Linked DNA regions of Homo sapiens: region 2 is linked to region 1. The links come from fine-mapping of genetic effects on gene expression. A gene starts in region 1. The other region holds a variant in brackets. All regions are shown on one strand. Distances are between the middles of the regions. Region 1 holds the start of DNAJC14 (DnaJ heat shock protein family (Hsp40) member C14). Region 2 has its middle 18 kb from the start of OR2AP1.

Region 1 (16,375 bases):
CACCACCACACTCAGCTAATTTTGTATTTTTAGTGGAGACGGGGTTTCATCTAGTTGGCCAGTCTGGTCTCGAACTCCTGACCTCAAGAGATCTGCCTACCTCAGCCTCCCAAAGTGCTGGGATTACAGGCGTGTGCCATCATGAATATCTATCATGGATTGTTGGGATTATCTATCATGTCAGCCTGAATATCTATCATGGATTGTTGGGAGGATTAAATAAGAATATATATGAAGTATGTAGCAAAGAATCAGGTACTACGGTGGATTCATCATTCCAGTTTGCCTGAGACTGTCCCAGTTTTAGCACTAAAAAGTCCCATGCCTCTAGAAACTCCTCAATCCCAGATGAACAGGGACAGTTGGTCTCTGGCACACACATGTATCAGTCATAAAATAAGAGTTCCAAAGATGTTACATCTTGAAACTCTTTTTTAACTAGAAAATTCTCATATCCAAAACTTCCTACAGTGATATGCCTTTCAGTCCCAGAAATGAAATAGCATATCATGGTCTCAGAGACTTTATGTACTTTTCAGCCTTCTCTCCAAGACAAGTAATATCCTCTCTTCCTACAGCTTCCTGATTGTACCCATCCCCATTCCCCAAAAATGCAGAGATAAAGCTAGTCTCCTGACTGATGCCAAATAACTAAAATGCTGTCAAATTTCCCACATTCCCAAGCTAATTGAACAGCCTTTTAGTCATGTTCACACTAGGGCTTAGTAAGGCAGTGAGAGGTTCAATAAAAGCCCAGAGACACTCTGGTCCAGGACAGAGAGAGATCTTTGGGGTATAGGGATAGATGTTTTGAGGTTAGGGGAACTTAACTACATCTCTACTTCAAGAGAAATTGAAAAATGAGAATTTTTGTTAAGAATAATATTCTCCAAAACAGGATGTCTACTAAAAGAAAGTGAGAAAAGAGCTCTACTACTAGTAGAATTAGTAACAATGAGAGTAAACAATTGTTACCCACTCTAAGAATACAGCAGAAGCCAAGCGCAGTGGCTCACGCCTGTAATCCCAGCACTCTGGGAGGCCGAGGCAGGCAAATTGCTTGAGTCCAGGAGTTCGAGATCAGGCTAGCCAACATAACAAAACCCCATTTCTACTAAAAATACAAAAAATTAGCCAGGTGTGGTGATGCACGCCTGTAGTTCCAGCTACTCAGGAAGCTGAGGTGGAAGCCACCTAAGCCTGGGGGATCAAGGCTGCAGTGAGCTGAGATCCTGCCACTGTACTCCAGCCTGGGGAACTGGAGTGAGACCCTGTCTCAAAAAAAAAAAAAAAAAAAAAAGAATATACCAAGCTACCTACTAAGGGGCATACATTTCCCACCAAATTAATTCAGTCCTTTGGTAAGTTACAGGTGTGGTGGTTTACTGTACCTTTAATCATTAATGGAAACTTTAGTTGCCCATTCCTCTTTGGTGTCATGCAGCCATTGAGGTAATTTGCACACTGTGATGTTTTACCAGTCCAGCTCCATACACTCCAGTGTAAGTAGGCCTCCAATTTACACACCTTACTTATATTCATAATAGTTTTATTTGTACAGAAATAGCAGTAACAATCTGTTATCTAATATCAACCTAATATCTACTTCTAATGCAATTTGATTGCATGCTTGTATTAAACCATTTCCCTCAAGCATAAGGTGCATGACAACTCCCATCTGCACACCCTCTTTTTTTTTTTTTTTTTTTGAGACGGTGTCTTGTTCTGTCGCCCAGGCTGGAGTACAGTGGCGCGATCTCGGCTCACTGCAAGCTCTGCCTCCCAGGTTTACACCATTCTCCTGCCTCAGCCTCCCGAGTAGCTGGGACTACAGGCGCCCGCCACCACACCCGGCTAATTTTTTTGTATTTTTAGTAGAGACAGGGTTTCACCATGTTAGCCAGGATGGTCTCGATCTCCTGACCTTGTGATCTGCCCACCTCACCCTCCCAAAGTGCTGGGATTACAGGCGTAAGCCACCGCGCCTGGCCCTGCACACCCTCTTATCAATAAAAGCAACCATATTTTCATGTATGACATACATATGCATACACCTCCATTTTCTTGCCCTCTCCTATTCTGAGTTGCTGATCTTGAAACAGCCTGTTTTCTCCTACCTGGTGCTAAAATCCTTACATGCACTCCCTGACCCTCCCATACTAGGTCCATATTTGCTTCTCTGGGAGAAATAGTTGGGTTACCCCATGTTTAAAAAAAAAAGAAAACCCTCATTTGTTCAGGTAAGAGCAACTGAGGTGCTCTCTGAATAGGTCTTTTTCCCACTCCAGTTAGAGGGACTTCACCTAGATTTTCCAGGTGAGTGAGTTCTACACTGCCCAATATACCAGGTTCAAAGAATATATCTCGTGACAAACAAAATGGAGGGAAGATCAGATCCCATAGTGGAGGGGAAAATATCTTTTTTTTTTTTTTTTTTTTTTTTGAGATGGTGTGGCTTGGTTGCCCAGACTGTAGGTTCATGATCGCAGCTTGTTGCAGCCTCGACCTCCTGGGCTCAACTGATCCTCCCACCTCAGCCTCCCGAGTAGCTGGGACTACAGGCATGTGCCACCAAGCCTGGCCTCCCAAAGTGCTGGGATCACAGGTGTGAGCCACTGCACCTGGCCCAAAAAGTCTTTATGACTCTTTCCTAAGACTATGTTAACCAGCTGGGCACAGTGGCTCCTGCCTGTAATCCCAGCACTTTGGGAGACTGAGGCGAGCGGATCATGAGGTCAGGAGATCGAGACCATCCTGGCTAACACGGTGAAACCCCGTTTCTACTAAAAATACAAAAATTAGCCAGGCACAGTGGCAGGCGCCTGTAGTCCCAGCTACTCGGGAGGCTGAGGCAGGAGAATGGCGTGAACCCGGGAGGCGGAGTTTGCGTGAGCCAAGATCACGCCACTGCACTCCAGCCTGGGCGATAGAGCGTGACTCCGTCTCAAGAAAAAAAAAAAAAGAAGAACGTTAACCTTCACCTACCCGTTAACTTTCTACTCTGCCTTCCCTTTATTCCACTCTCCCTAAAACTGGAATAGAAAATATAGGAACAGGCTGGGACCAGTGGCTCACACCTGTAATCACAGCACTTTGGGAGGCTGAGGTGGGTGAATCATGAAGTCAGGAGTTCGAGACCAGCATGACCAACATGGTGAAACCCCATCTCTACTAAAAATACAAAAAAAATTAGCCGGGCATGGTGGCGCGCACCTGTAATCCCAGCTACTCAGGAGGCTGAGGCAGGAGAATCGCTTGAACCCAGGAGGCGGAGGTTGTAGTGAGCTGAGATTGTGCCACTGCACTCCAGCCTGGGTGACAGAGCGAGACTACATCTCAAAAAAAAAAAAAAAAAATATGGGAACAAAAGAGAGAAACAGGAAACAGAAGGGTACTCACCATCACTGCCAGCTGTCTATAGGCCTTCTTCAGTTCAACATCTGATGCTGTGGCCTCAACCCCCAGTACATGGAAAGGGTTTAGCTCATCCTCAGGAACCCCAGCCATGGTCAAGAGTCGAGCCACTTCCTCTTCAGGCTGGCAGTAGCGCCCACTAGCTACAGGTGCATTCCCCTGCCTATTAATATTCTGCTTGACCCAAGGCAACTCCAGCCAGCCCCACTGAACTATTCTTACCAGCCGCTGCCATGGCCTGCTATCTCTCAGCAGAGTCAAGCAACGCTGCAAGGCTGGAGAATCCAGCCAAGAGAAGAGCCAGGTAGCCTTATCCCTCCAGCCTAACCGGTCACCTAGTCCCACCAGAAACCGCCATCCCAACTGTAGAAAGCCCAAAAAGAGGGCCAGAGCCAGGAGCAGCAAAGCACCCAGCAGCTTAAGAAAACGAGTAAACAGTCCTACTCCACAGTAAAACCCCTGGCTTAGAAACTGAAACATGACCTGGGCCCAGCCCCCTAACCGCCCTGTCCACACTCCCATCCAAACTCGAAAAAGGTCCAAATCACTGCTTTTCAGTTGCCTGCAGGCATAGATGAGATGGCCACAAGTTTCTACGTACTCTCCCACCAATACCAGCAGTTCAATCAGCCACCAAAAGCCTGCCTGTCCAAGTTGACATAGTTCCTCGGCTCCCCACAATCCCAGGCCTTTGCGCTTATCTGCCTGACTTCGTTTCCGACCCAGCCGATGTCGACCAGGGGACCTGGGATCCCTACGTCCACCCTCCCGAGTATCCTCCTTCGTTGGAAAGCGGTGCCGCTGTCTCCGGGATGGGGGTTTCTTTCCGCTGGACACACGTGAAAAATCACTGGGGAACTTGAGAGATTCTTCATCATCATATTCCTCTTCCAACTCATCTTCCCCCAAAGCTGGAGAGGTACAGTGGTGGCAAAAGTTGCTAGAAGAACCATTTCCTCCCTCAGAGTAAGGCCCTTCTGGAATTCCAGGTGTTCCCTGGCAGTTGCAAGCAGATGGAATGGAAAGAAAAGAGTTCCCATCCTTCTGGTTCCCAGTCTCGTTTTCTTTTGAGAGTTCCTGGTCCACTCCTGATTCTTCTTCTGAAGACGTCTCACTCTGATCAGGGTCCTCTGCATCTCTAGGTGGTCCTGGACCCCCTGGGGGGCCATGGCTTGGGTCCAACCAATGGGCTGGGTTTGGGTGCTGTGTGTGCTTAGGACCAGAGTGCTCTGTGAGGCAGCGGGTACCATTAGGAGCAGTCCCTGCTGAGTCCCTGAGTCCTGAGAATGAAGGTATTTCAGGGTCCACGGAGGGTCCTAAAGTCCTGAGGGAGGCACCACCACTGTGGTGGGCTCCATACAACCCTCTTTCTCCGGGGTGCTTCTGGGCCATGACCCCGGGGCTTCCTGAGGGTCTTAGGTCACAGCCATCATGGTGTGTTCTGATGCCTGTAACAGATATCAAGGTGGAGACAGTCAAGGATGAGACCAAGAGAGGAATTAAACAATCTCAAATAGTGGACACATTTAATTCATCCACCTCCCTTGTTTTCCCAAGTTCTTTTGGGGCATTCGCTATTCCTAGCAATAAGCCAAAACTAGACTCACCACAACCCTGCTTGCTCCCTCCCCTCTCCTCCAAATCACTTAAGTTTTTCTTCTTTCCCCAGAAAACTATAACCTTCAATCAGGGAAACAGGGAGGTACCGTAAAGGGTGTGGTCGGGGGAGGGTGGGTCACTCTTAGGAAAATGGGAAAGACCGCCGGAAAGGGGGCCACAGACTTCCAGTAATGGGTGGGGGCCATGCGGCCCTGGAGGAAAATCTGGGGGCGGAGCTTAGGGCTGCCCCTAAGAAAGACTAACAGGGAACCCACCGGCTGTGTAGAAGGGACGAAGGTGGCCGGGCACCGTGGCTCACGCCTGTAATCCCAGCACTTTGGGAGGCCGAGGCCGGCGGATCACGAGGTCAGGAGTTCGAGACCAGCCTGGCCAACATGGTGAAACTCCGTCTCTACTAAAAATACAGAAATTCGCCAGGCGTGGTGGCGCGCACCTGTAGTCCCAGCTACTCGGGAGGCTGAGGCAGAAGAATCGCTTGAACCCGGGAGGTGGAGGTTGCAGTGAACCGAGATCGTGCCACTGTACTCCAGTCTGGGTGACAGAGCGAGACTCCATCTCAAAAAAACAAAAAAAAACGAAAAAAAAAAAAAAGACGGACGTACCGAAGAACGGCGGTAACTCCTCCCCCTCGAGCCGCCCGGCCTGGGGCCAGGGTGAGCTACGAGAGCCGCTCTCCCGGCTCCGCCTCCCGCTCACGCTCTGCTTCCGCCTTCCGTCCCCGCGGCCGCCGGCGACCTGGGCCTACTTCCACTTCCGGGGTCACCAGGGAAGAGACGGGAAGGAAAAGAAATAGCGGTTGGCTGAGAGGCAAGCCAATCCAGCTAGGGCTGCGTCGACTCCAAGGAGGCGGTCCTAAGGAAGTACTGGCCCCGCCATTTAAAGGCCCCTCCCTCCGCGTGTGGGAATGGGATTCCCGCAGGTTGCACCGCAGGAAGCAAGGCAGGTGGACTCTGCACCAATGCCTGCAGACTAAGGGCAGACTCTCAGGATTGCTCTGGGTGTATTCCTAGGCTTTGTATTCCTGGGAGATGGAGGGCAGCCACCGAGCCACATATAGTCTTTTTCCCTTGCAGACAAAACCAGGGAGCTCAGAAGAGTCACTGCCCTGATCCCTTCCGTGCCGGCAGCTGCGAGGACACAGGCCCCTTTGTATCCTGCGGTGCGGAGGTGGAGCAGAGGAGAGGGTGCCCCGGCTGGCCCCCTCCCTCGCCCCGCAGCACTGCCCCTCCTTTCACAGCAACCCACGGCCTCCCCCGCGCTTGACCCAGCTGGCGAGCTGCCCCTTATACCTGGATCCGCCCCTCGGGTCGCAGCTCCCCAGGCCCGATCACCGAGCGGTGCCTAGGAACTGGGAGCGTAACTTGGCTCGGCTCAGAACTTTGCCCGTGAGCCAAAGAACACTGAACTCATCTACCTGCTGCTTGACATCTCATCTGCATACCAAGCTATTTGGTGGACGTCCACAAGCGCCCCCGCCCCCACGTAGACCCAGTTGGGTCCCCGTTCCGTCGGTCCCCTCCTCTGCACACGCCTCTAGCCTTATACCCCGTCTTGATCCGAAAGTTTTTCCACCCATGAACCCCCAGTTGGCGCTCCCCGACCAGCAAAAGCCCCTTCCCTGGTCCACGATCCCGACCACCCGGTTCTCCAGGAGACAATACTCCAATTCTCTGGAAAGTGGAAGAAACCAAGCTGAAGCTAGGGGGGCGCTGGGACCCCTATTGGGGCTTTGAGAGCTTCCGGTTGTCATCTCCTAAGTATTCGGAGACCCTTCTCCAAAACTCTTGGGGTGACCCTCAAGACTCTTACCTGCTATATAGTTGGGGGTCTCTGGTCCTGGACTAGAGCAGTAGGCAACCTGGGTCCCCCCACACACACGGGAAAGAATTGGAGGGGCCTGCCTTGTGATGTCACCCCTCCTCCCCCCACCGCGCGCACGCGCGCGCGCACACACACAAACACAAACACACACCCCAACACACACGCCCTGTCCCCTTTCTCCACCCTGCAAGCTAGTTGCATTTAGCTCACAGAGCCTGGGCTGCGACTTGAAAGAGTTTAGGCAGCAACAGAGTGACCCTGGGGGTGCTCTTGACCGACAGCCGCACCCCCGGCGTCTAGGACCTCCGAGCAGGGATGCATCTGGAGGTCTAGGGAAGCACTTCCACCCCCTCCTCTCCTCAATCCTGGCAGGATGGTGAGTAGTTAACATCCCCTCCCCAACCCCCGCTTGTCCAGGGTCCCCAGACTTCCAAGCAGATTGAGGAGAGGAGCTCCGAGAGTCAACCCTCCAGCCTGTAAGGACCTTGATATCCAAAGGACAGCTGAAGAAAGTAATGTGCCTGCATTTTTGCCACTTCATTCCCACAGTGCCCGAAATGCCAGCTCCTCCTTGGTGTTCTCCTTTCAGGATTTGAATTCAAATCCCATTGGCAGCCCTGATACCGCTGGGGGAAGGGTGAGGTAGGAAAAGTCCCACCAATATCCTAAGGGGAGGTGCGAGTGGCTACCAGGATGTGAGATGTCTGTGGGCAAAGTCCCTGCTTATTCCATGAGGGGCTGTGGGATTAGGACTGTGGCTGGATGCCTCTTCCTCCAACAACTCCATCTCAGCATGAAGCTGAGGCTTTAAAACCCTGACAAACTGTGGGTGACTGTCTCTACTTAATTCCTCCTCCCAAACTCTTGGTGTCTGGTTTTTTCCCTCTTTCTGCCCTGGGCCTGGAGCAGCTGTCCAGAGACCCCCACCATGACTCATACTCTCCTGTTCTCCCTCCCTCTCCCCTCTCTATTAACCTCACCCTTCCCAATCCAGTGGGGTAGTATTAAGTCCCAGTCGCAGATGGGGCAATAATGTCCCAGCACCCCTCCCTCCACACACCCAGGGCTTCCTGTTCTTTCCACCCTCACCCTGAAGAGCTGCAGGGTGGTGGGGGGAGGCAAAGGCTCATTACTTTATAAGATTTTCATTACTTTATAAGATTTCATTTTACATTTTACTTAAGTGTACTTGTTTCAGAGAGTGGTAAAGACAGATCCTGCTCCTCTCAATCCAATCCTGTAGATTTCTTCAGTTACCTCAACAGGGTCATACTGGCTCCTGAAATGGGCACCATTATTTAAAAGAAATAGAGGTACAGAGTCCTCAAGATTTATGGGCACCTGAGTTTCTGCCCCGTGCCCCGCTGCAGGTTTCCCAATCCCCTAAAGACATTCATGGATGGGTGAGAGGAGCTGACACCTCCCGCTCTGTGACCACTTTCTCTTTGGCCATGGAGGAAGTCTTGCTGCCCCTGGCTGTGACATCTGACCCCAGGCCCTTTAATCAACAACTCCCAGAGCCTCCAGACCCAAGATGTGTTTTGGAACCCCAGGACAATCCTGAACTGGCACTTGCCCTGGTGTGTGCCCTTTGCTGCTGCTTTGGAATCATCTACTGCTGCTTCAGTGAGGGCAGGGCCAAGGACCTGGGGGGCCATTGCCCAAGACTGTCATCCTCAAGGATGATGCCAGCTTTCCTCCTTGCTCCTGGGCCATCTCACCTCCTCTGCCAGGGGTTCCTACCTCTAGTGTGGCCCATGTTGCTCTGGCTGTATTCCTAGGCCCATGTTGCTCTTGCCAGCTTCTTGTCCATCCTCCATGCCCATGCCTTCCAGCTTTCACCTCTGGCATCTATCATTTGCTCTTCTCTTAACTCCTACCTGAAAACCCCATTCCTAAATTATTCACTATATTTCAGACTTCTTCACTCTTCTCCAAAAACCTGAATCAGCTTGTGCTGATTTTTTCCTATCTGCTATCCCTAAAAGGACTAGACCTTCTTTCTATCCTTACTCCCCTCAATGTATCCATCTTACCTCTTGATTTTCCCTCCCATTCCCTCACAGTTCCTGAAACAGTGCCCCCCCCCGACCCTAAGCGACCCCTTTCTGCCCCTGGCCTTGAGGTCCCTTGACGTGCTGCTCCTGTCTTCTGCTCCTCTAGTGAGCCATTCCTCTCCCTTGGAATTCATCAGAGTCATCCCTGTAGAGCCCCCTTCCTGCCTCTCAATTCCTCCTGCCTCACTTCCCAGGCTACTGCTGCTTCAAGACAGTGACGTTTCTCTCCGGTCAGCTGTCAGGAGCGCTGGTGAGCTTCCTACTGTGCCACAAGGTGCGGGTGCTGGAGACACAGCTGAGCCTGGAAATGAGAGTGGGCATCGCCGTGGTCATCATGACTCCTCTGCGGCGTGGTCACCATGTTGGTTCACTGTGTTGGGCTCTTATTGACGGGTCTCCTGCTAGGCCTGACCTTGGGTGCCGGAGCCCTGCTGGCTTCTGAGCCTATCTACCAACCACCTTCAGCCTGGGTGCCAGCTGGGGGGCTGGTGGGGCTGGCGCTGCTGGGAGCCCTGCTCACACTTCGGTGGCCACGTCCATTCACAGTTCTGGGCACAACCCTGCTGGGTTCTGCAGTGCTTGTGGCCTGTGTTGACTACTTCCTGGAGGGGCTGGCACTGGGGAGTTGGCTGGGCCAACGCCTGCAGACACTTCCAGCCTTGCCTTCTCTCTGCTGATATAGCTGGGTCTTACTGGGGATCTGGCCAGCCTTGGGGGCCCTTGGAGCCCTGGCCCAGTGGAAGCTCGTGCCTGAGGAACATGGAGGCCACGCTAATGGTGAGTTAGTGCTGTGGTACAGAAGCAGCCAACCTGTGCCTACTCATGTCCCCAGTTCCTAGACTTAAGGAGGGAAGGGGAGAAATACACTTGAGGAAGGAGAGTGGGGGAGGATGTCCAAGGTGAATGGGGCAGGGCACTGAAAAAAAAAGTTGAAGGAGTCAGGGGAAGCAGGAAAGAGTTACAGAAGGAAAGGAGGATCTCAGGGAAGTCTAGGAGGAAAAATAGAATTTCGAAGAATTTCTTTTAGAATGAATTGTCGGGGGGGTGCTGGGCACGGTGGCTCACGCCTATAATCCCAGCACTTTGGGAGGCCAAGGCGGGCGGATCACGAGATCAGGAGATCGAGACCATTCTGACTAACACGGTGAAACCCTATCTCTACTAAAAATACAAAAAAAAAAAAAAACTAGCTGGGCCTGTTGGCAGGCGCCTGTAGTCCCAGCTACTGGGGAGGCTGAGGCAGGAGAATGGCTTGAACCCGGGAGGTGGAGCTTGCAGTGAGCCAAGATCGCGCCACTGCACTCCAGTCTGGGCGACAGAGCGAGACTCCATCTCAAAAAAAAAAAAAGAGGAATAAATGGGGGGGGAAGATGAGGCTTGAGAGAAACAACAGGAAGGTCAAATGGGTTTCTTTAGAATGTGAGTGTGTATAGGGTAGGATTCAGGGCCTAAAGAGGCCTTCTTGAGTCTGTATTGCCCCCTCCGAAGCAGTGGTCTTTTTTTTTTTTTTTTTTTTTGAGATGGAGTCTCACTCTGTCACCCATGCTGGAGTACAGTGGCATGATCTTGGCTCACTGTAACCTCCGCCTCCTGGATTCAAGTGATTCTCATGCCTCAGCTTCCCGAGTAGCTGGGATTACAGATATGCATCACCATGCCCGGCTAGTTTTTGTATCTTTAGTAGAGATGGGGTTTCACCATGTTAGCCAGGCTGGTCTTGAACTCCCAACCTCAAGTGATCCACCCACCTCAGCCTCCCAAAGTGCTGGGATTACAAGTGTGAGCCACCGCGCCCGGCCAGCAGTGGTCTTAAGCCACCAGCAAAGCCATCTCCAACTCCTTCAGACCCTTCAGCAAAAGGCCAAATGGCACTGGATCCCCTCTGGGGTGGGGCTTTGTGAGGGCAGCTGTCGGCATCAGCTCCCTGCCAATACCTGCAGCCCTGCTGACAGTCTCGCTCCAGTGAGTGGGGGACTTGGGGACACCCTGGGCAGATGGAGCAGAGGACATATGGGGATGGTCAGGGTGGGAGGGGGGCTCTGACCCAGGCCCCTCCTTACTCCCTCTCTGCCCTGTGTCCCTCCAGAGTTACTTCCAGAGTCTTCAAGAGTGCCAACTGGGACCAGGACCCCAGACCACAGCCCCCCACACCGTCCTGGACCTGGATTCTGACTGTGGTTCCACTGTACCCCTCACCTTAATCTCTGGTTCTAACCAGACCTGAGCCTAGACTTCCACTTTTTCCCTTACCCCTGTGAGGGCCTGGGAACACTAGGTGGGCAGGGTTTGAGCCCACAGGACCTGCACACAAACTTCCCCACCTCTTGGACTTGGGGACAGGATCTGTGCCTCAACCCAGACCAGCTTTGTAGGGATATGTTCCAAGAACAGAGAAGAGTCTTATGGGGAAGGGGGAGGAAGGGAAGTATGAATATTTACCTCTGACCAATAATAGAGGTGCCCTGGTCCCCAAAGAAATTGACTCCCGAATTCCCTCCAAGCCTTACCCATATAGCTTTTGTTTGTTTGTTTGTTTTCAGACAAGGTCTTGTTCTGTCCAGTGCCGTGGCGTGACCACAGCTCATGACAACTTTGATTTCCCCGGCCCAAGCGAGCCTCTCATTCAGCCTCCTGAGTGGCTGGGACCACAGACGCCACACACAGCTAATTTTTATGTATTCGTTTTTATTTTTTTGCAGAGACAGGGTCTCCCTATGTTGCCCAAGCTGGTCTTGAACTCCTGGGCTCAAGTGATCCTCCTGCTTCAGCCTCCCAAAGTGCTAGGATTATAGCCACCGCACCTCGTCTTGAAATAGCCTTTTAAATGTTCACCTCAGCTTGCCTCACAGTGGTAAAAATAAGCATTTTTTTGTTTTGTAGGATCAGGGAGCTTCCAAGGCATTTGATACCTTTTTGATGGGAAGAAGGGCTCTGAGGAGCTCCAAGATACCCCAACCTCCAGGCCCTTCATTAGGGGGTAGTTGGGTTTCTGTTTGGCCTTTCCCCCTGGGCCCCATAGGCTTAAACTACCCCCACCCCCACCTCCGCCTCCTACCTCAGCTGGGAGCACTGTCTTCCATGGGGCTTCCACTTCTCTCCTCAACCTGGGGAAGACCACAGGGCAGTGCCTGCCTCAGGACCTGCCTTCCCCAAAAGCTGGCTTCTTGCTCCAAGGAGAGAGCATTGACCCACCTGCCAGAGTCTTGCCTTTTGCCCAAAGGAGCCTGGTCTTCAGGGCTGCATAGGATGCAAGTGCCTTCTCTGCTTCTCACCGTGGGTGGCACTAATTTCCTCCTTAACCAGAACTTTGTTCCAGCCACTGACCCATTCTAACTCTTCCCCCTCTGACTCTCCTGCGCAGGGTCTGTTCCTGGTTTCCCAGATGCATAAAGGAAGACATATCCCTCCCCTGGGCAGCAAGGCTACAATGGGAGGGAGGGAGAACATGGGAGCATGTGAATAAAATGGCATTAAATACTGAACCAGGGAGTCCAGCCTCTGCTGTTGCTGCTCTTTTCTTTCTCTGCACCCCAAAACAAAGAGCTAACCATCTTGACAAATCCTCTGTCCCCTAAAGATCTAATAGAGATGCCCTTATTATACAGACTACTGTAAGAGTTATACAGCCAGACAGCTAGAGGAAGAGCTGTTCAGTCCTCTCTTATGAACATGGAGTTAGCTTTTATTAAACACAAATGTACCAGACACTGTGCCAGGCACTTCACATACAGTATTTCATTTAGTGCAACAATCCTGCAGTACTGGTCTTAACCTAATGTTGCAAATGGGGAATCTGAGATTCAACAAGGTTAATTAGCTTGCCCGTAATCATAAGCACATAAATGTGATTCTCAAGGATTCCAAGGCCCTTGCTCAGTTTACTGGCCATGCTGTTTTCTTGCATTTTATGTAGGAAGAACAGGACCCAGGCATCTCCCTCCACCATTGACCTCCAGAGAAGAGATGACACAGTTGGAAGGGCTGTCTAAGACAGACAGGAAATGGAGTTGGGGGCCAAATCTAAGTTAGGGGATCTGAGTTAGGGGAGCACTTCTCAGGAGTGAAAATGCACAGGAAAGTGGTGGCTGGAGTTGGAAGTGTTAGAGGCCTGAGATCTACGGTCTTGCGCCTGCTACAGCACCTGCAAGGTTCTACTGAGCAGACAGGTATTTCATTCAGCTATTAGGCCTTAGGCTTCTGGGGGGGAAATGAAAGGGTGGGTGGTGGAGCCTCAGGGGTTAATGTCCAAGATTGTGTCTGTGGGTGAGCAGTCAGTATTCAAACGTGGTTTCTGTGGCTGAGAGAGTGGTATCCAAGGTTATGCCCGTACCTGAGGGAGTGGTATTCCCACCTGATGGGGTAGTGTCTATAGTCCGGGGACGACAGTGCATCCAGTTGTGGGAAATATTTCTGGGATAGCCTTTCTCTACTCGAAGCTGCTGGTTGAGGCGCCAGTAGACTTTGCCCTTGAAGAAGTAGACTCGGCCATCTTGCCAACTCATAGCAGCCGAGGGCTGGTTTGGCACTCCCGTAAACAAACCCTTGATTGGTTTGGGGTAGCTGCTGAAGTCAGTTCGGGCTAGCTCGTCCCACTGCCAGTACCCGGAGCCCTGGATATGGGATGGGTGGGGAGAGGGGAGAGGAAGAGGAGAGAGCTTAGGACCCCCAGGGGTCCACCCCCAGCCCACTGCAGCTGCAGAACATCTCCCTTCAAGCGCAAGCTTTGCTTCTCAGTATAAGGTAGCCCACTCCTCCTAAGAAGGGATTTGCCCTTGCTTTGAACTTTATACCTTAAAGAGGAACACCTTTTGGTTGAGAGGCCAATAGAGAGCTGCATCCAGGTTAGGTTCTACCCTATTCAGCTTCTTGGGGAAGCCAGGAGACATCTTGAAATTAATGTAGCGCCACACCTTGTCTCCTGAGAGCATGTGAGGAAAGAACAAGTCACCTCTGTCCTCAGGTGATAGCTTTTGGTCTCCTCCGGTCCACCTATTCAGAAACTTCTCATCTCCCTCCCTTTTATAGTTTCTTTAAGATTAGGCCCTCCTCAAGTAAGACACTGTAACTAGCCTCCTTACCCTTAAAGAAGTGAATCCATTGTGTTCGAGGCGAGTAGACAGCAGCATCCAGGTTTCCGGGGAGCCCCTCCCAAAGGGCAGACACTCGGAACAAGGGGCCCGGTCCTGAATCTGATACAGTCCACACATAGTCCCCCTTGAAAGCATAGGTCTTCCCACGGGGCCCTGAGCGTAATGGTGTGTCAACAAGTCAAAAAGACAGAGGTCAAGTAGACAGAAACTTGGGGGTATCTCAGGCTGACTAACAATTTGCCCTCTCCCTGCAGGCTGATTCTTCAAAAATTCATTCAACTTTAATTCAAAGAGAAAATTAAAGGCAGACAAAGAGGACTCAGAATGCTTTGTTGCTCAGAGCGTTTCAGCTTTGGTCCACTCAACAAAACAAAAGCCCTGCAGATAGCTATTCCTCCTTAGGAACCTCACCCTCCCCTCCAAGTGGCTTCCTAGTTGTCCTTCCAACCAGGTGCACCCTCTCTAACAGGCAATCTGGGTAATATAGTTTTCTCCATCTTGCTGCATTTCCAGATGTGTTCTAGTGGCCCTTAGAGCGTGGCAGCCTTGGTAAGTGCCTGCCTAAGCCACCTTTAATTTGGCTCCGAACTCTCCCTCCCCATGTCACATGTCTCCTTCCATGGTCATTAATGCCTGGGGTCTAACCTCCATTGCTCATGCTGAAGTCCCATGTCACTCCCATTTGTCCAGGCCTCAGGATCAGCAGGCTGCCCCCACCGCCTGCCAACAGCCTGGAGGGGAGGGGCCTCACCCAGCATCATGGCATCCAGTTCACTACTGCAAGGGTCTGGCATGGGACTGGGTTCTGTGGGCACTGGGGGCACAGTGGGCAGCTCTGTCTCTTCTTCTTCCTCATCCCTTATCACTGGACTCTTCTTGCCTATAAGGTAAAGTAATGCTGCTTAGGGAGAGAACTCACAGCACCTGTCCTCCACACCAGTCTCCTGTAAGTTTTGCTCAGAGTCCCCATACAGAGGGGAAAAGGGAATCCTAGAGCGTTTTCATTTGTGGTAGGCAATATTATGTTGATATCAGCGGGAGACACGTTCTAGGTTTGAGAGACACCAGAAAGGGAGAAGGAGGATTGTTAAAATGTGCATTCTTGCCGGGTGTGGTGGCTCACGCCTATAATCCTAGGACTTTGGGAGGCTGAGGCGGGTGGATTGCCTGAGCTCAGGAATTTAAGACCAGCCTGGGCAACATGGTGAAACCCCATCTCTACTAAAATACAAAAACAATTAGCTGGGCGTGGTTGCGTGTGCCTGTAATCCCAGCTACTTGGGAGGCTGAGGCAGGAGAATGGCTTGAACCCGGGAGGCGGAGGTTGCAGTGAGCCAAGATCATGCCATTGCACTCCAGCCTGGGTGACAGAGTGAGGCTCTATCTCAAAAAAAAAAAAAAAAAAAAAGAAGGTGCATTCTCCATCCCCAAGCATGGGTGTAAGGAGAGAGGCCTGGAAGGAAGATTAGACATAGAAGAGTCTGAGAAAAACTGCTCCTGAAAATGAAGAAGCCTGAGTAACTGGGCTGGAGGAGAAGAAAGACACTAAGCTATATCCCTACATGGAGGCTAGACCTGTCTCTTCAAGCCTTGACGTGGGAGTCAGACTGACCCTCCCCCTCACTAGGGGGAGGGACTGACCATAGAGAGCCTGGATCCCTGCCACATCATCTGGGTGCAGCTTAAAGTGGGGCCGGTAGCCCTCGTAGACTGGGGCCATGAGGGCCTGGGAATATCGGGAGTGCCCAAGCCCCAGAGCATGGCCCACTTCATGGGCTGCAATGATGCGCAGGTTCACCCCACGGTAGGTCCCCTCAGTCCAGAACTCGTCTTCGTCGAAGTGCACACTGCCCAGCTCTGGGATGTCGGCATGGGCCAGGACTCTCCCTGGACAAAGGCAAAGGTGAACAGGAAGGAGGTCAGAGCCCGCTAGGCTAGAGCACACCCTGCCTATTATAAACTCTAATTAATGCATACCTTTAAAATTCCCCCAGCTATGTTCACTGTCTCTTGGATGCTTCTTTCTCCCCTTTCAGATTCCCCTGTCATCACCCAGTTCTCTCAGGAATGCCCATCACTGTCCCTTACCTTCCCAGCCACTCCCTGCTCTCTGACCCAGTCCTCTCTGGCCCATACCTCTAAGGTATGCCTTGAACAGGGGAACTTAAGGGAGAAAAAGAAGCATAGGCAGCCAGGGGTGATGGCTCACACCTGTAATCCCAACACTTTCAGAGGCCAAGGCAGGAGGATTGCTTGAGTACAGGAGTTTAAGACCAGCCTGGGCAACATAGCAAAACTTCATCTCTACAAAAATTAGCCAGGTGTGGTAGTGTTTGCCTGTAGTCTCTACCTGGGAGGCTGAGGCGGGAGGAT
Region 2 (16,375 bases), 240 kb before region 1:
GTTAATTCCATGTCTTTCCTATTGTGAATAGTGCTGCAATGAGCATACGCATGCATGTGTCTTTATAAGAGAATGATTTATATTGCTCTGGATATATACCCAGTAATGGGATTGCTGGGTTGAACAGCATTTCTGCCTTTAGGTCTTCCAGGAATCACCAAACCATTTATTATTGTTGGGTCTACTATTCCATCCTACAGGCAGTGGCTGTTGACCAAGAACATGCTGAGCGTGGGGCTGCTGGGCAGGATCTTGCACAGCCAAGCACTGTGTGCAGGTTATTGGTCCACACTGCCTGGGACAGCTTGATCACCAACTGCTGGATCAGCTCCCAGGCTGATGGCATCAGGCTGCAGGCTGCTGTCCCTCAGCTGGGGTCCCAGAGGCCCCCACAGGCTTGAGGCAGCCTTGACTTCCCTTGTGGCTGCCAGGATGGCCAGGGGGCCAGCCGCCAGCACTGCTGTCAAGGTTCCCATACAGCCACAGAGGCTGATCATCTATACTACTCTCTGATCTGAACTATGATTATCTGTGAGTCAGTTAGTGAAAGATATTCCAACTATATCTGCTATGCTATGTTCCTTTAATTTAGAAAAAGACAAATATGAAAAACATTGTAACCTCAATCCTGAGTAGAGTAAAGGCAAGAGTATAAAAATTTCTTTGTACGTTTCTCTAATTTATTTTACTTTATTTAACACACAAGGAGACAACATTTCTCTACTTTAAATATCTCAATAAAGAATCTTGGTGACCATTTTCATCAAATGTGTAGCATTTGATGAAATCATATATACTTCCTCCAAAATATTATGATATAGCCTCCTTTGTGACAAAGAAAACTCCACAGAACATAATATTCTTGGAAAATACTGTCTCCAGTTTGACATGCCATAGATACTAGGCATGTTAGGCCTGTACCATAATTCAAGTATTGTCTGGATGGAGCTGGACAGTGAGGCAGCTATCTAATCCTACTAGCCATAATACTTTATTTCATGTTAAGTTCCCACACCAATGTTATGTTTGTCCTTTCCCAAAAATATAGAAAATCATAAAAATATCACTAGTAAAAATTCAGACTGTCATAACATTTAGTTCTTCCTGCAATTTTGGAAAATTATCACAATTTCAATAAAATTTCTAAGAACTTAAAAATAGGAAGAGTATCAACAGTAGTTAAAATTCATGGAAATTCAGTGTCTACACCAGCAATTCCTTGTTTTGCTTTCTTTTCTAAAACTGTCAAGAATAATTGCAAATAAATACCCAAAAGGAAGAGATTATATAGATTATAACTGGCTTATTAATTATTTAAATATTTATTGGCTTGAACTGTGGGTGAACAATTCTTTGCATGAGAAAATGCAGGGAAATTCTAGAACTTTCACAGCTTTGCATAAAGTTATTTCTTCTTCATAGGAGCTTCCTGCATCTTTTTGGACCTTTTGGATGTGAAGTCTCTGATAGCATAGATCTAATTACTCCCAGAATATATACATGCTCACAATGTAGCATCATCATAAATTTGATGGGCTAAAACTGTGCCCACCTAGGTCATCCACCTCTAGACTGCCTAGTACCAGGTTCATACTGTGCATATTTAGTGCCTCTGACTGGTCTGATCCTATATATGAAAAGGGTCTCATTATTATATAACAGAAGCTTGTACATCAAAAGTTGATTCAGCACAAACTGTTACCCCTCCCCACTTATGCCCATATCACTCACTCTTTATTCCACACATATTCTCCCTCTCAAGGCCTTTGGCTTTGGCAATTTCTCACAAAGTAATGTTCCCCTGCAGTTCTTGCCTGATTCAATTAACTTCCTTTTATCAATAGCTGTCATTTTTGTTTGTGTTAGCATCTCCCTTTCTCTGATAAATATTTCACCCTGCTCCAGTCTTGGATTTCTGATGGAACTGTCAATCCACTCATCTCTCCTTATTTGACGTCATTGATAAACATACAAACTGGCCCATTCAATTATGATACCACATTCCCCTAGCTAAAAGATTGAGTCAGAGTTAAGCATATGAACCAAGATGGACCTTATGACCTTTTTGATTTAGACTTGAAAGAAAAGAGAGATGGTGCCATGCTTTCTGGATCATAGATTTCAAGGACTATATATTGGAGACTGTCTACTGTCTTCCAAGTGAAAAAATCTGTCTCAAGAAAAACACCAACCTTAAAAGAAGAAAATGGGGAGAGAGTAACTATGTTTGAGTCCCTGTATTCTAGATCTAGTAACACCTGAAACCAGTTACTGCTGGACTTATACATTATGTGAATTATAAATTTCTGTCTTCACTTAAGATAGTTTGGCTTGGGTTGCTGTCATGTGAAATCAAAAGATTCCTGATTATTCCTTCCCGGATTTTAGTTCTGTGATTTTAAACTAAGCTCTACTCTTCACCATAATACACAATTAATACCCAACAAAAATGGAACTTAGGACATTCCAACCCTATTATTGGCCAAAGTTCTAGGTTCTCCCATGTTATTCTATATTTTTCCTTACTTCTACTCCATTTCTGCATTTGACTGGATCCCGACATGGTGCCCAATGCTCCAAGATGCTTTATTTTTTCTGGGATACATCCATGATATAAGATTATCGGTATCACAATCTCAATTCAGGAAACAGTCTTTCACATCTTGATAAGCCACACGTTTTGTCATTCAAGAAAAAGAGGTATAGATGTATGCCATTTTATGATTGCAGAATAATGGTTTATCTGTGTTATCAGGGATTTAGAATTTAAAAAATGGAGGATTGGTTAACCTACTCCAGGATGACTGCAGTAGAAGAACATAGATATACCTCTCATAATGTGACTAGAGTTGAGAATACTTGTATTCCACATGAATATGAGTACTCACCATAAGTCTTCTTCAACAAACAGACATATACATACATCTATTAAAAAGTTGGTAGACAAGCTGACTTTTTCTGTGGATGAGAACCAATCTTATTCTCCACCACTTTAATGCTTGTTCAATGAGCTCAAAAACAAAGTAAACATTAAAGAAGGACTGTAGAATTATGCATGAGACTTTCCTTACCAAGACTCATCTGGCTACTGTCATTGCTGTGTCCAATCTTCTAATAGCAGAAATCAAAGCCAAGCCTATTGCATGGCACCTGCTACTTTCATATGCAATTGGTTAATTAGTTAATTGCTAATTAGTTAATTGCAAAGGGCCCCTTATATTATAGTGGGGCAGCAATTGTCTTCACTGAAACAGCCCTTCCTTTTGGATATGGATTTCTTCTGCCAGCTCAGCATTATCATCCAAGGGCAAACTGGATGATTTATTTACTATCATTTTTATCCCACAATGTTTCTTTTAAACAAGAAAAAATATTATCAAAATTAAATGTATACATATTTATTATATATTACCTTCTACCTTGATGACCCATAGTTTACCAACACAGAATCTATAACTAACTGCAAATTCCCAAAAGAGAGAAGATAATTGGTTCTGTTTGGCTCATGACTACACTTACTTCATTCTCCTCTGGCCAAGTTCATTCTCTTCTAGTTTTCTCAATATGTGGTGTGGGCTGGAAGAGAAAATAAACAATGAGCTATCTTATGTACTATAAAGTTATATCTTTGTCTTCCTCCTGACTCAAGAATTACCCACAAACACATGTTCCCACAAAGCTGTAGACTAGATTGAATCAATCCCTTCTGTAAATTATACTGTTCTGTTGTTACTCCCTCTTTGTTGCCTTTTCTCTAAACTCTTATTGTCCTGGTGTATATGTTATTGCTCTCCAGTAATTTCTCAGGACCATGTTTCTCTTTCCTAAAGAAATCTGTATGCTATAATTCTCTATCACATTGGCTGCTCAAAAATCCATACTTGGCACACTCATCTATTAAGACTCTCTGTCTAAAGCCAAACTGTGATCGGAGGAGAGAGATTGTTCACAAGTTAATCACAGACATCATCTAGGATCAACCTCAAATACAAACATTCCTCTCACCAAACATAGCTGAGAATTAATCCTGTGTATAGGACTCTAGGTCAAAGCCAAACACTGATCCTTCCAAGACCATGTCCCTCTACTCCTTCCAATCTGAAATTCCTTTTGTCAGGGAGAGTCATATTTAGCAGCTATTAGGAGTCACATGACACTTATCATTTCCATGTAAACATTTAGAGATCGCAAGTGGGTAAACTTGGAGAAGTTTGAGCCAGAGTGCCAGGAACAAGTGGAAGAGCAGTTCTCAAGCCTTAGAAGAAATAGAGGAAGAACAAGACCTCCTACCTCTCATCAGAGGACAGTTATCAGGGTACAAAAGACTGAAAGAGAAAAGGAGTTTCTGGGAGGAAATACTAAACCACACTCCATCTCTCACATTTCTTGACCAATGTGTGAGACCATCACAGCAACAGAAGGTAAATGCCCTAACTATCTCCCTCTTTAGGAGTCATATGGTGTAATGAACATTAAGAAAACAAGTTATATTGTCTAGCTTTATACATAAATATAATAAAGGTATTTTATTTAACATTATGCCCAGGACACACTAGACTTCTCAAAAAAACATATCATTGCAAAATGACAGTGCTAAGTCCTTACCTAACAATAATAACTTTGAATGTAATGAACTAATGTCTCCAGTTAAAAGACATAGAGGTCTGAATGAAATAAGAAAAACAGCATCCAACTGTATGCTGCCTACAACAAACTCAATTCATCCTTAAGGACACTACAGACTGAAAGTGAAGAGATGGAAAAAGATATTCCATTCAAATGGAAACCAGAGCAGCAGCTATACTTACATCAGATAAAATATACTCTAAGCCAACAACTGTAAAAAGAGACAAAGGAGGTCATTATACAATAATAAAGGGATCAATTCAGCAAAAGAATATAACACAGATGCAGCAATCTTTAACAAAATACTAGCTAACTGAATCCAACAGCATATCAAAAAGATAATCCACCGTGATCAAGTGGATTTCATACCAGGGATGCAGGGATGGTTTAACATACACAAGTCAATAAGTGTGACATACCACATAAACAGAATTAAAAACAAAAATCACATGATCATTTCAATAGATGCAGGAAAAACATTCAACAAAATCCTGCATCGCTTTATGATTAAAACTCTCAGCAAAATTGGCATACAAGGAAGATACCTCAATGTAATAAAAGCCATCTATGACAAACCCACAGCCAACATAATAGTGAATGGGAAAAGTTGAAAGCATTCCCTCTGAGAACGGGAACAAGACAAGGATGCCTAGTCTCACCATTCCTCTTCACCATAGTACTATAAGTCCTAGCCAGAGCAATCAGACAAGAGAAAGAAATAAAGGGCATCCAAATTGGTCAAGAGGAAGTCAAATTGTCACTGTTTGCTGACGATATAATTGTTTACCTCAAAATCCCTAAAGACTCCTCCAGAAAGCTCCTAGGACTAATAAAAGAATTCAGCAAAGTTTCTAGATACAAGATTAATGTATGCAAATCAGTAGCTTTTCTATACACCACAGGGACCAAGCAGAGAAACGAATCAAGAACTCAACCCCTTTTACAATAGCTGCAAAAAATATAAAATACTTAGGAATATACCTAACCTAGGAGGCAAAAGACCTCTACAAGGAAAACTACAAAACACTGCTGAAAGAAATCATAGATGACACAAATAGAAACACATCCCATGCTCATGGATGGGTAGAATCAATATTGTGAAAATGACCATAATGCCAAAAGCAATCTACAAATTCAATGCAATCCCCATCAAAATACCACCATCATTCTTCACAGAATTAGAAAAAAAAAACAATTATAAAATGCATATGGAACCAAAAAGAGCTCATGTAGCCAAATCAAGATTAAGCAAAAAGAACAAATCTGGAGGCATCACACTATCTGATTTCAAACTATACAATAGGGCCACAGTCAACAAAACAGTGTGGTACTGGTTAAAAAAAAAAAAAAAATAGGGACATAGACCAGTGGAACAGCATAGAGAATCCAGAAATAAGCCCAAATACTTAAAGCCAACTGATCTTCAACAAAGTAAACAAAAACATATAAAGTGGGGAAAGGACATCATTTTCAAAAAATGGTGCTGGGATATATGGCTAGCCACATGTAGGAGAATGAAACTGGATCCTCATCTCTCACCTTATACAAAAATCAACCAAGATGGATTAAGGACTTAAACCTAAGACCTGAAACTATAAAAATTCCAGAATATAACATTGGAGAAACCGTTCTAGACTTTGGCTTAGGCAAGGATTTCCTGACCAAGAACCCCAAAAAAATGCAATAAAAACAAAGATAAATAGTTGGGGTCTAATTAAACTAAAGAGCTTTTGCATGGCAAAAAGAACAGTCAGCAGAGTAAGCAGACAATCCACAGAGTGGGAGAAAATCTTCACAATCTATATATCTGACAAGGACTAATATCCAGAATCTACAACAAACTCAAACAAATCAGTAAGAAAAAAAAGCAAACAATCCCATCAAAAAGTAAGTTAAGGATGTGAATAGACAATTCTCAAAAGAAGATATACAAATGGCCAACAAACGTATGAAAAAATGCTCAACATCACTAATGATCAGCGAAATGTGAATCAAAACCACAATGTGATTCCACCTTACTCCTGCAAGCATGGCCATAATCAAAAAATCAAAAAACAGTAGATTTTGGCATAGATGTGGTAATCAGGGAACACTTCTACACTGCTGGTGGGAATATAAACTAGTACAGCCACTATGGAAAACAGTGTGGAGACTACCTAAAGAACTAAAAGTAGAACTACCATTTGATTCTGTAATCCCACTACTGGTTATCTACCCAGAGGAAAGGAAGCCATTATATGAAAAGATACTTTCACATGCATGTTTATAGCAGCACAATTCACAATTGCAAAATTGTGGAACCAACCGAAATGCCCATCAGTCAACAAGTGGATAAAGAAACTGTTGTGTATATATATATATACATATATATATGATGAAATATATGATGAAATACCACTCAGCCATAAAAAGGAATGAATTAATGGCATTTGCAGCGACCTGGATGAGACTGGAGACTATTATTCTAAGTGAAGTAACTCAGGAATGGAAAACCAAACATCGTATGTTCTCACTGATATGTGGGAGCTAAGCTATGAAGATACAAAGGCATAAGAATGATACAGTGGACTTTGGGGACTTGGGGAGGAGGTTGGGAAGGGGGCAAGGGTTGAAGATTACAAAAAGGGTCTCGTGTTATCGCCCAGGTGATAGGTGCACCAAAATCTCACACATCACCACTAAAGAACTTACTCATGTAACCAAATACCTCTTGTACCACCAATAACCCATTGAGTGGAAAATAAATAAATAAATAAAAATAAAATGTGTTCTAAAAAAAGAATTAATAAAGATCAAAGCAGAAATAAATAAAATTGAGACTAAAAAAATACAGAAGATCAACAAAACAAAAAGTTGGTTTTTTGAAAAGATAAAATTCACAAACCTTTAGCTGGACAGAAAAATTAAGAGAAAACACAAATAAGTAAAATCAGAAATGAAAAAGGAGCCCTCACAAGAGAAACACAGTAATATAAAGGGTCATTAGAGACTGCAATGAACAACTATATGCTAATGAATTCAAAAATCAAAAGTAAATGGATAAATCCCTCAACACATACAACCTACTGAGATGGAGCCTAGAGGAAACCGAAAACCTGAACAGACATGAACAAGTAACAAGATTGAATCAGTAATAATAAAAAGTCTCCCAACAAAGAAAAGTCCAGAACTAGATGCCTTCAAAACTGAATTCTACCAAACATTTAAAGAAAAATTAATATCAGCTATTCTCAAACTATTCCAAAATGTTGATGCAGAGAGAACTTTTCCCAACTTATTCCCTGAGGCCCTGATTCCAAAACCAGAAAAGAACACAGAAAAAAAAAAACCATGGGCCAATATTCCTGATGAACATACACACAAAAATCCTCAACAAAATACTAGCAAACAAAATCAAACAATATATCAAAAACATAGGGAGGAGCCAAGATGGCCGAATAGGAACAGCTCCGGTCTACAGCTCCCAGCATGAGCAACGCAGAAGATGGGTGATTTCTGCATTTCCATCTGAGGTACCAGGTTCATCTCACTAGGGAGTGCCAGACAGTGGGCGCAGGTCAGTGGGTGCATGCACCATGCGCGAGCTGAAGCAGGGCCAGGCATTGCCTCACTCCGGAAGTGCAAGGGGTCAGGGAGTTCCCTTTCCTAGTCAAAGAAAGGGGTGACAGATGGCACCTGGAAAATTGGGTCACTCCCACCCGAATACTGCGCTTTTCCGACGGGCTTAAAAAACAGCGCACCACGAGATTATATCTGGCACCTGGCTCTGAGGGTCCTACGCCCACGGAGTCTCGTTGATTGCTAGCACAGCAGTCTGAGATCAAACTGCAAGATGGCAGTGAGGCTGGGGGAGGGGCGCCCACCATTGCCCAGGCGAGCTTAGGTAAACAAAGCAGCCAGGAAGCTCGAACTGGGTGGAGCCCACCACAGCTCAAGGAGGCCTGCCTGCCTCTGTAGGCCCCACCTCTGGGGGCAGGGCACAGACAAACAAAAAGACAGCAGTAACCTCTGCAGACTTAAATGTCCCTGTCTGACAGCTTTGAAGAGAGCAGTGGTTCTCCCAGCACGCAGCCGGAGATCTGAAAACAGGCAGACTGCCTCCTCAAGTGGGTCCCTGACCCCTGACCCCCGAGCAGCCTAACAGGGAGGCACCCCCCAGCAGGGGCACACTGACACCTCACACAGCAGGGTACTCCAACAGACCTGCAGCTGAGGGTCCTGTCTGTTAGAAGGAAAACTAACAAACAGAAAGGACATCCACACCAAAAACCCATCTGTACATCACCATCATCAAAGATCAAAAGTAGATAAAACCACAAAGATAGGGAAAAAACAGAACAGAAAAACTGGAAACTCTAAAAAGCAGAGTGCCTCTCCTCCTCCAAAGGAACGCAGTTCCTCACCAGCAATGGAACAAAGCTGGATGGAGAATGACTTTGACGAGCTGAGAGAAGAAGGCTTCAGACGATCAAATTACTCTGAGCTATGGGAGGACATTCAAACCAAAGGCAAAGAAGTTGAAAACTTTGAAAAACATTTAGAAGAATGTATAACTAGAATAACCAATACAGAGAAGTTCTTAAAGGAGCTGATGGAGCTGAAAACCAAGGCTCGAGAACTACATGAAGAATGCAGAAGCCTCAGGAGCCGATGCGATCAACTGGAAGAAAGGGTATCAGCAATGGAAGATGAAATGAATGAAATGAAGCAAGAAGGGAAGTTTAGAGAAAAAAGAATAAAAAGAAATGAGCAAAGCCTCCAAGAAATATGGGACTATGTGAAAAGACCAAATCTATGTCTGACTGGTGTACCTGAAAGTGATGGGGAGAAAGGAACCAAGTTGAAAACACTCTGCAGGATATTATCCAGGAGAACTTCCCCAATCTAGCAAGGCAGGCCAATGTTCAGATTCAGGAAATACAGAGAATGCCACCAAGATACTCCTCCAGAAGAGCAACTCCAAGACATAACTGTCAGATTCACCAAAGTTGAAATGAAGGAAAAAATGTTAAGGGCAGAGAGAAAGGTCAGGTTACCCTCAAAGGGAAACCCATCAGACTAACAGCAGATCTCTTGGCAGAAACTCTACAAGCCAGAGAGAGTGGGG[G/A]CCAATATTCAACATTCTTAAAGAAAAGAATTTTCAACCCAGAATTTCATATCCAGCTAAACTAAGCTTCATAAGTGAAGGAGAAATAAAATACTTTACAGACAAGCAAATGCTGAGAGATTTTGTCACCACCAGGCCTGCCCTAAAAGAGCTCCTGAAGGAAGTGTTAAACATGGAAAGGAACAACCGGTACCAGCTGCTGCAAAATCATGCCAAAATGTAAAGACCATCAAGACTAGGAAGAAACTGCATCAACTAATGAGCAAAATAACCAGCTAACATCATAATGACAGGATCAAATTCACACATAACAATGTTAACTTTAAGTGTAAATGGACTAAATGTTCCAATTAAAAGACACAGACTGGCAAATTGGATAAAGAGTCAAGACCCATCAGTGTGCTCTATTCAGGAAACCCATCTCACGTGCAGAGACACACAGAGGCTCAAAATAAAGGGATGGAGGAAGATCTACAAGCAAATGGAAAACAAAAAAAGGCAGGGGTTGCAATCCTAGTCTCTGATAAAACAGACTTTCAACCAACAAAGATCAAAAGAGACAAAGAAGGCCATTACATAATGGTAAACAGATCAATTCAACAAGAAGAGCTAACTATCCTAAATATATATGCACCCAATACAGGAGCACCAAGATTCATAAAGCAAGTCCTGAGTGACCTACAAAGAGACTTAGACTCCAACATATTAATAATGGGAGACTTTAACACCCCACAGTCAACATTAGACAGATCAACGAGACAGAAAGTCAACAAGGATACCCAGGAATTGAACTCAGCTCTGCACCAAGCAGACATAATAGACATCTACAGAACTCTCCACCCCAAATCAACAGAATATACATTTTATTCAGCACCACACCACACCTATTCCAAAATTGACCACATACTTGGAAGTAAAGCTCTCCTCAGCAAATGTAAAAGAACACAAATTATTACAAACTATCTCTCAGACCACAGTGCAATCAAACTAGAACTCAGGATTAAGAATCTCACTCAAAACTGCTCAACTACATGGAGACTGAACAACCTGCTCCTGAATGACTACTGGGCACATAATGCAATGAAGGCAGAAATAAAGATGTTCTTTGAAACCAACGAGAACAAAGACACAACATACCAGAATCTCTGGGACGCATTCAAAGCAGTGTGTAGAGGGAAATTTATAGCACCACTAAATGCCCACAAGAGAAAGCAGGAAAGATCCAAAATTGACACACTAACATCACAACTAAAAGAACTAGAAAAGCAAGAGCAAACACATTCAAAAGCTAGCAGAAGGCAAGAAATAACTAAAATCAGAGCAGAACTGAAGGAAATAGAGACACAAAAAACCCTTCAAAAAATTAATGAATCCAGGAGCTGGTTTTTTGAAAGGATCAACAAAATAGATAGACCACTAGCAAGACTAATAAAGAAAAAAAGAGAGAAGAATCAAATAGATGCAATAAAAAATGATAAAGGGGATATCACCACAGATCCCACAGAAATACAAACTACCATCAGAGAATACTACAAACACCTCTACGCAAATAAACTAGAAAATCTAGAAGAAATGGATAAATTCCTTGACGCATACACTCTCCCAAGACTAAACCAGGAAGAAGTTGAATCTCTGAATAGACCAATAACAGGATCTGAAATTATGGCAATAATCAATAGCTTACCAACCAAAAGAGTCCAGGACCAGATGGATTCACAGTCGAATTCTACCAGAGGTACAAGGAGGAGCTGGTACCATTCCTTCTGAAACTATTCCAATCAACAGAAAAAGAGGGAATCCTCCCTAACTCATTTTATGAGGCCAGCATCATTCTAATACAAAAGCCGGGCAGAGACACAAGCAAAAAAGGGAATTTTAGACAAATATCCTTGATGAACATTGATGCAAAAATCCTCAATAAAATACTGGCACACCAAATCCAGCAGCACATCAAAAAGCTTATCCACCATGATCAAGTGAGCTTCATCCCTGGGATGCAAGGCTGGCTCAATATACACAAATCAATAAATGCAATCCAGCATATAAACAGAGCCAAAGACAAAAACCACATGATTATCTCAATAGATGCAGAAAAGGCCTTCAACAAAATTCAACAACCCTTCATGCTAAAAACTCTCAATAAATTAGGTATTGATGGGATGTATCTCAAAATAATAAGAGCTATCTATGACAAACCCACAGCCAATATCATACTGAATGGGCAAAAACTGGAAGCAGTCCCTTTGAAAACTCACACAAGACAGGGATGACCTCTGTCACCACTCCTATTCAACATAGTGTTGGAAGTTCTGGCCAGGGCAATTAGGCAGGAGAAGGAAATAAAGGGTATTCAATTAGGAAAAGAGGAAGTCAAATTGTCCCTGTTTGCAGATGACATGATTGTATATCTAGAAAACCCCATTGTCTCAGCCCAAAATCTCCTTAAGCTGATAAGCAACTTAGCAAAGTCTCAGGATACAAAATCAATGTACAAAAATCACAAGCATTCTTATACACCAACAACAGACAAACAGAGAGCCAAATCATGAGTGAACTCCCATTCACAATTGCTTCAAAGAAAATAAAATACCTTAGAAATCCAACTTACAAGGGATGTGAAGGACCTCTTCAAGGAGAACTACAATCCACTGCTCAAGGAAATAAAAGAGGATACAAACAAATGGAAGAACATTCCATGCTCATGGATAGGAAGAATCAATATTGTGAAAATGGCCATACTGCCCAAGGTAATTTACAGATTCAATGCCATCCCCATCAAGCTACCAATGACTTTCTTCACAGAATTGGAAAAAACTACTTTAAAGTTCATATGGAACCAAAAAAGAGCCCGCATCGCCAAGTCAATCCTAAGCCAAAAGAACAAAGCTGGAGGCATCACACTACCTGACTTCAAACTATACTACAAGGCTACGGGAACGAAAACAGCATGGTACTGGTACCAAAACAGAGATATAGATCAATGGAACAGAACAGAGCCCTCAGAAATAACGCCACATATCTACAACTATCTGATCTTTGACAAACCTGAGAAAACCAAGCAATGGGGAAAGGATTCCCTATTTAATAAATGGTGCTGGGAAAACTGGCTAGCCATATGGAGAAAGCTGAAACTGGATCCCTTCCTTACACCTTATACAAAAATTAATTCAAGATGGATTAAAGACTTAAACATTAGACCTAAAACCATAAAAACCCTAGAAGAAAACCTAGGCATTACCATTCAGGACATAGGCATGGGCAAGGACTTCATATCTAAAACACCAAAAGCAATGGCAACAAAAGCCAAAATTGACAAATGGGATCTAATTAAACTAAAGAGCTTCTGCACAGCAAAAGAAACTACCATCAGAGTGAACAGGCAACCTACAAAATGGGAGAAAATTTTCGCAACCTACTCATCTGACAAAGGGCTAATAACCAGAATCTACAATGAACTCAAACAAATTTACAAGAAAAAAACAAACAACCCCATCAAAAAGTGGGCGAAGGACATGAACAGACACTTCTCAAAAGAAGACATTTATGCAGCCAAAAGACACATGAAAAAATGTTCATCATGACTGGCCATCAGAGAAATGCAAATCAAAACCACAATGAGATACCATCTCACACCAGTTAGAATGGCGATCATGAAAAAGTCAAGAAACAACAGGTGCTGGAGAGGATGTGGAGAAATAGGAACACTTTTACACTGTTGGTGGGACTGTAAACTAGTTCAACCATTGTGGAAGTCAGTCTGGCGATTCCTCAGGGATCTAGAACTAGATATACCATTTGACCCAGCCATCCCATTACTGGGTATATACCCAAAGGACTATAAATCATGCTGCTATAAAGACACATACACACATATGTTTATTGCGGCATTATTCACAATAGCAAAGACTTGGAACCAACCCAAATGTCCAACAATGATAGGCTGGATTAAGAAAATGTGGCACATATACACCATGGAATACTATGCAGCCATAAAAAAATGATGAGTTCATGTCCTTTGTAGGGACATGGATGAAATTGGAAATCATCGTTCTCAGTAAACTACCACAAGAACACAAAACCAAACACCGCATATTCTCACTCATAGGTGGGAATTGAACAATGAGATCACATGGACACAGGAAGGGGAACATCACACTCTGGGGACTGTTGTGGGGTCGGGGGAGGGGGGAGGGATAGCATTGGGAGATATACCTAATGCTAGATGACGAGTTAGTGGGTGCAGTGCACCAGCATGACACATATGTATACATATGTACCTAACCTGCACAATGTGCACATGTACCCTAAAACTTAAAGTGTAATAATAAAAAGAAATAAAAAATAAAAAATAAAAAATAAAAAAAATAAAAATTACAAAAAAAATTATCAAGTAGTTTACTCTTAAAAACATTTAAAAAATTAAAAATTTCATAACATTCTAAAAAAAAAACCATAATACACCATGACTAAGTGGGATGTATCCCAGGAATGCAATGATGTTCCAACATAGGCAAATCAATAAATGTGATTCATCATATAAAACAGAATGGAGGACAAAAACCATATGATCATCTCAATAGATGAAGAAAAGATACCTGATAAAATTCAATATCCCTTCATGATAAAAACTCTCAAAAAATTAAGTATGGAAAGAAAGTACCTCAACAGAATAAAGGCCTTATATGACTAAACCCATTATACTGAATCTAATGTCTAACATACTGAAGCTAACATTATACTGAAAGCTTTTCTTCTAAGAACTGAAACCAGACAAGGGAGTACACACTCACCACTCATTCCACATAATTGAAGTCCTAGTCAAAGTAATTAGGCAGGAGAAAGAAATGAAAGGCATTCAAATTGGAAAGGAGGAAATCAAGTTGTCTCTGTTTATATATAAAAAATCCTAAAGACTCAACCTAAAAACTCTTAGAACTGAAAAGTAAAGTCGTAGGATACAAAATCAGCATGCAAAAATCAGTAGCATTTCTATACATGAACAACTAACTAGCTGAAAAAATAAATAAGGCAATCCCATTTACAATAGCTATTAAAAATAAAATAGCAAGGAATAAATTTAATGAAGGAAGTGAAAGACGTCTGCAAGGAAAACTACAAAACACTGATGAAAGAAACTAAAGAGGATACAAACAAATGGAAAAGATATCACATGCTTGTAGGTCAGAAGAATTAATATTGTTAAAATGACCATAATCCTAAAGCAATCTACAGATTCAATGCAATCCATATCAAAACACCAATGACATTCTTCACAGAAATAGAAAAAAAAATCTTAAAATGTGTATAGAACCTCAAAAGACTTCCAATAGGCAAAGCACTCCTGGACAAAAAGAACAAAGCTAAAGGCATCACATTACCAGGCTTCAAAATATACTACAAAGCTGTAGTAACAAAAACAGCATGGTACCGGCATGAAAACAGACACATAGACCAATTGAATAGAATAGATAACACAGATATTAATACACATATCTATAGCCAACTGATTTTGACAAAGGCACCAAGACAGTCTTGGGGAAAGGACAGTCTCTTCAAGAAATGGTGCTGGGGAAACTGGATGTCCATATATAGAAGAATGAAACTAGACTCCCACCTCTCTCCCTACAAAAATCAACTCAAAATGGATGGAAGACCTAAATGTAAGACCCAAAACTATAAAACTTCTAGAAGAAAACGAAGGGGGGAATCTTCATAACATTGGTCTGGGTAATGACTTATTGGATATAACAACAAAAGAATAAGCAACAAATATAAAAATATAGACAAATTAATTACATCGAATTTAAAACCTTCTACACAGTGAAGGAAACAATCAACAGAGTGAGGAGGCAATCTATAGAATGGGAGAAAATATTTGCAAACTATTTATCTCACAGGAGATTAATATCCAAAATACATAAGGAACTCAAACAACTCAGTAGCAAGAAAACAAATAACCTAATTTAAAAACAGGCAAAGGACCTAAACAGAAATTTCTCAAAGGAAGACATACAAATGACAACAGGTATATGAAAAAAAAATGTTCAACATCACTAATCATCAGAAAAATGCAAATCAAAACCACATGAGCTATCACCTCACTCCTGTTGAAATGGTTATTACCATCTGGGTGTGTGGCTTATGCCTGAATCCCAGCACTATGGGAGGCCAAGGCAGGAGGATTACTTGAGCCCAGGAGTTTGAGAATAGCCTGGGGAATATAGTGGGACCTCATCTCTACAAAAAATAAAAATAAAAAATAAATACTGGGGGCACTGTGGCATCTCTACAAAAAAAAAATAGTGGGGTCACTGGGACCTATAGTCCTAGCTACTCTGGAAGGTGAAGTGGAGAGTTCATTTGAGCCCAGAAGATGGAGGTTACAGTGAGCTGAGATTGTGCCACTGCACTCTATGCTGGAAAACAGAGAGAGACTCTGTCAAAAAAAAAAAAAAAAGGATTGTGGGGCCAAGATGGCCAAATAGGAACAGCTCCAGTCTACAGCTCCCAGCATGAGCAATGCAGAAGATGGGTGATCTGCATTTCCAACTGAGGTACCGGGTTCATCTCACTGGGGAGTGTCGGACAGTGGGTGCAGGACAGTGGGTCCAGCACACTGAGCGTGAGCAGGGCGAGGCATCA

The links.
Region 2: its variant is fine-mapped to the expression of DNAJC14 in pancreas (GTEx, PIP above 0.99).

What each region holds. Positions count from the first base shown.
Region 1 is chr12:55,823,853-55,840,227 of GRCh38, forward strand. DNAJC14 (DnaJ heat shock protein family (Hsp40) member C14) reads right to left here and starts at 5,735. Exons shown (of 7, transcript NM_032364.6): 1 at 5,637-5,735; 2 at 3,400-4,862. The coding sequence starts at 4,806. It overlaps MMP19 (matrix metallopeptidase 19), which reads right to left. Exons shown (of 9, transcript NM_002429.6): 5 at 15,644-15,889; 6 at 14,754-14,882; 7 at 13,991-14,155; 8 at 13,703-13,830; 9 at 11,581-13,522. The coding sequence ends at 13,184. It also overlaps the pseudogene TMEM198B. RefSeq lists a silencer at 5,673-5,782 and enhancers at 6,311-7,048, 7,003-7,202.
Region 2 is chr12:55,581,896-55,598,270 of GRCh38, forward strand. No RefSeq gene overlaps it. Among named protein-coding and RNA genes, the nearest start is that of OR2AP1, 18 kb to the left of the region's middle. RefSeq lists an enhancer at 8,360-8,920. The variant G/A (reference allele first, on the strand shown) is at 9,734.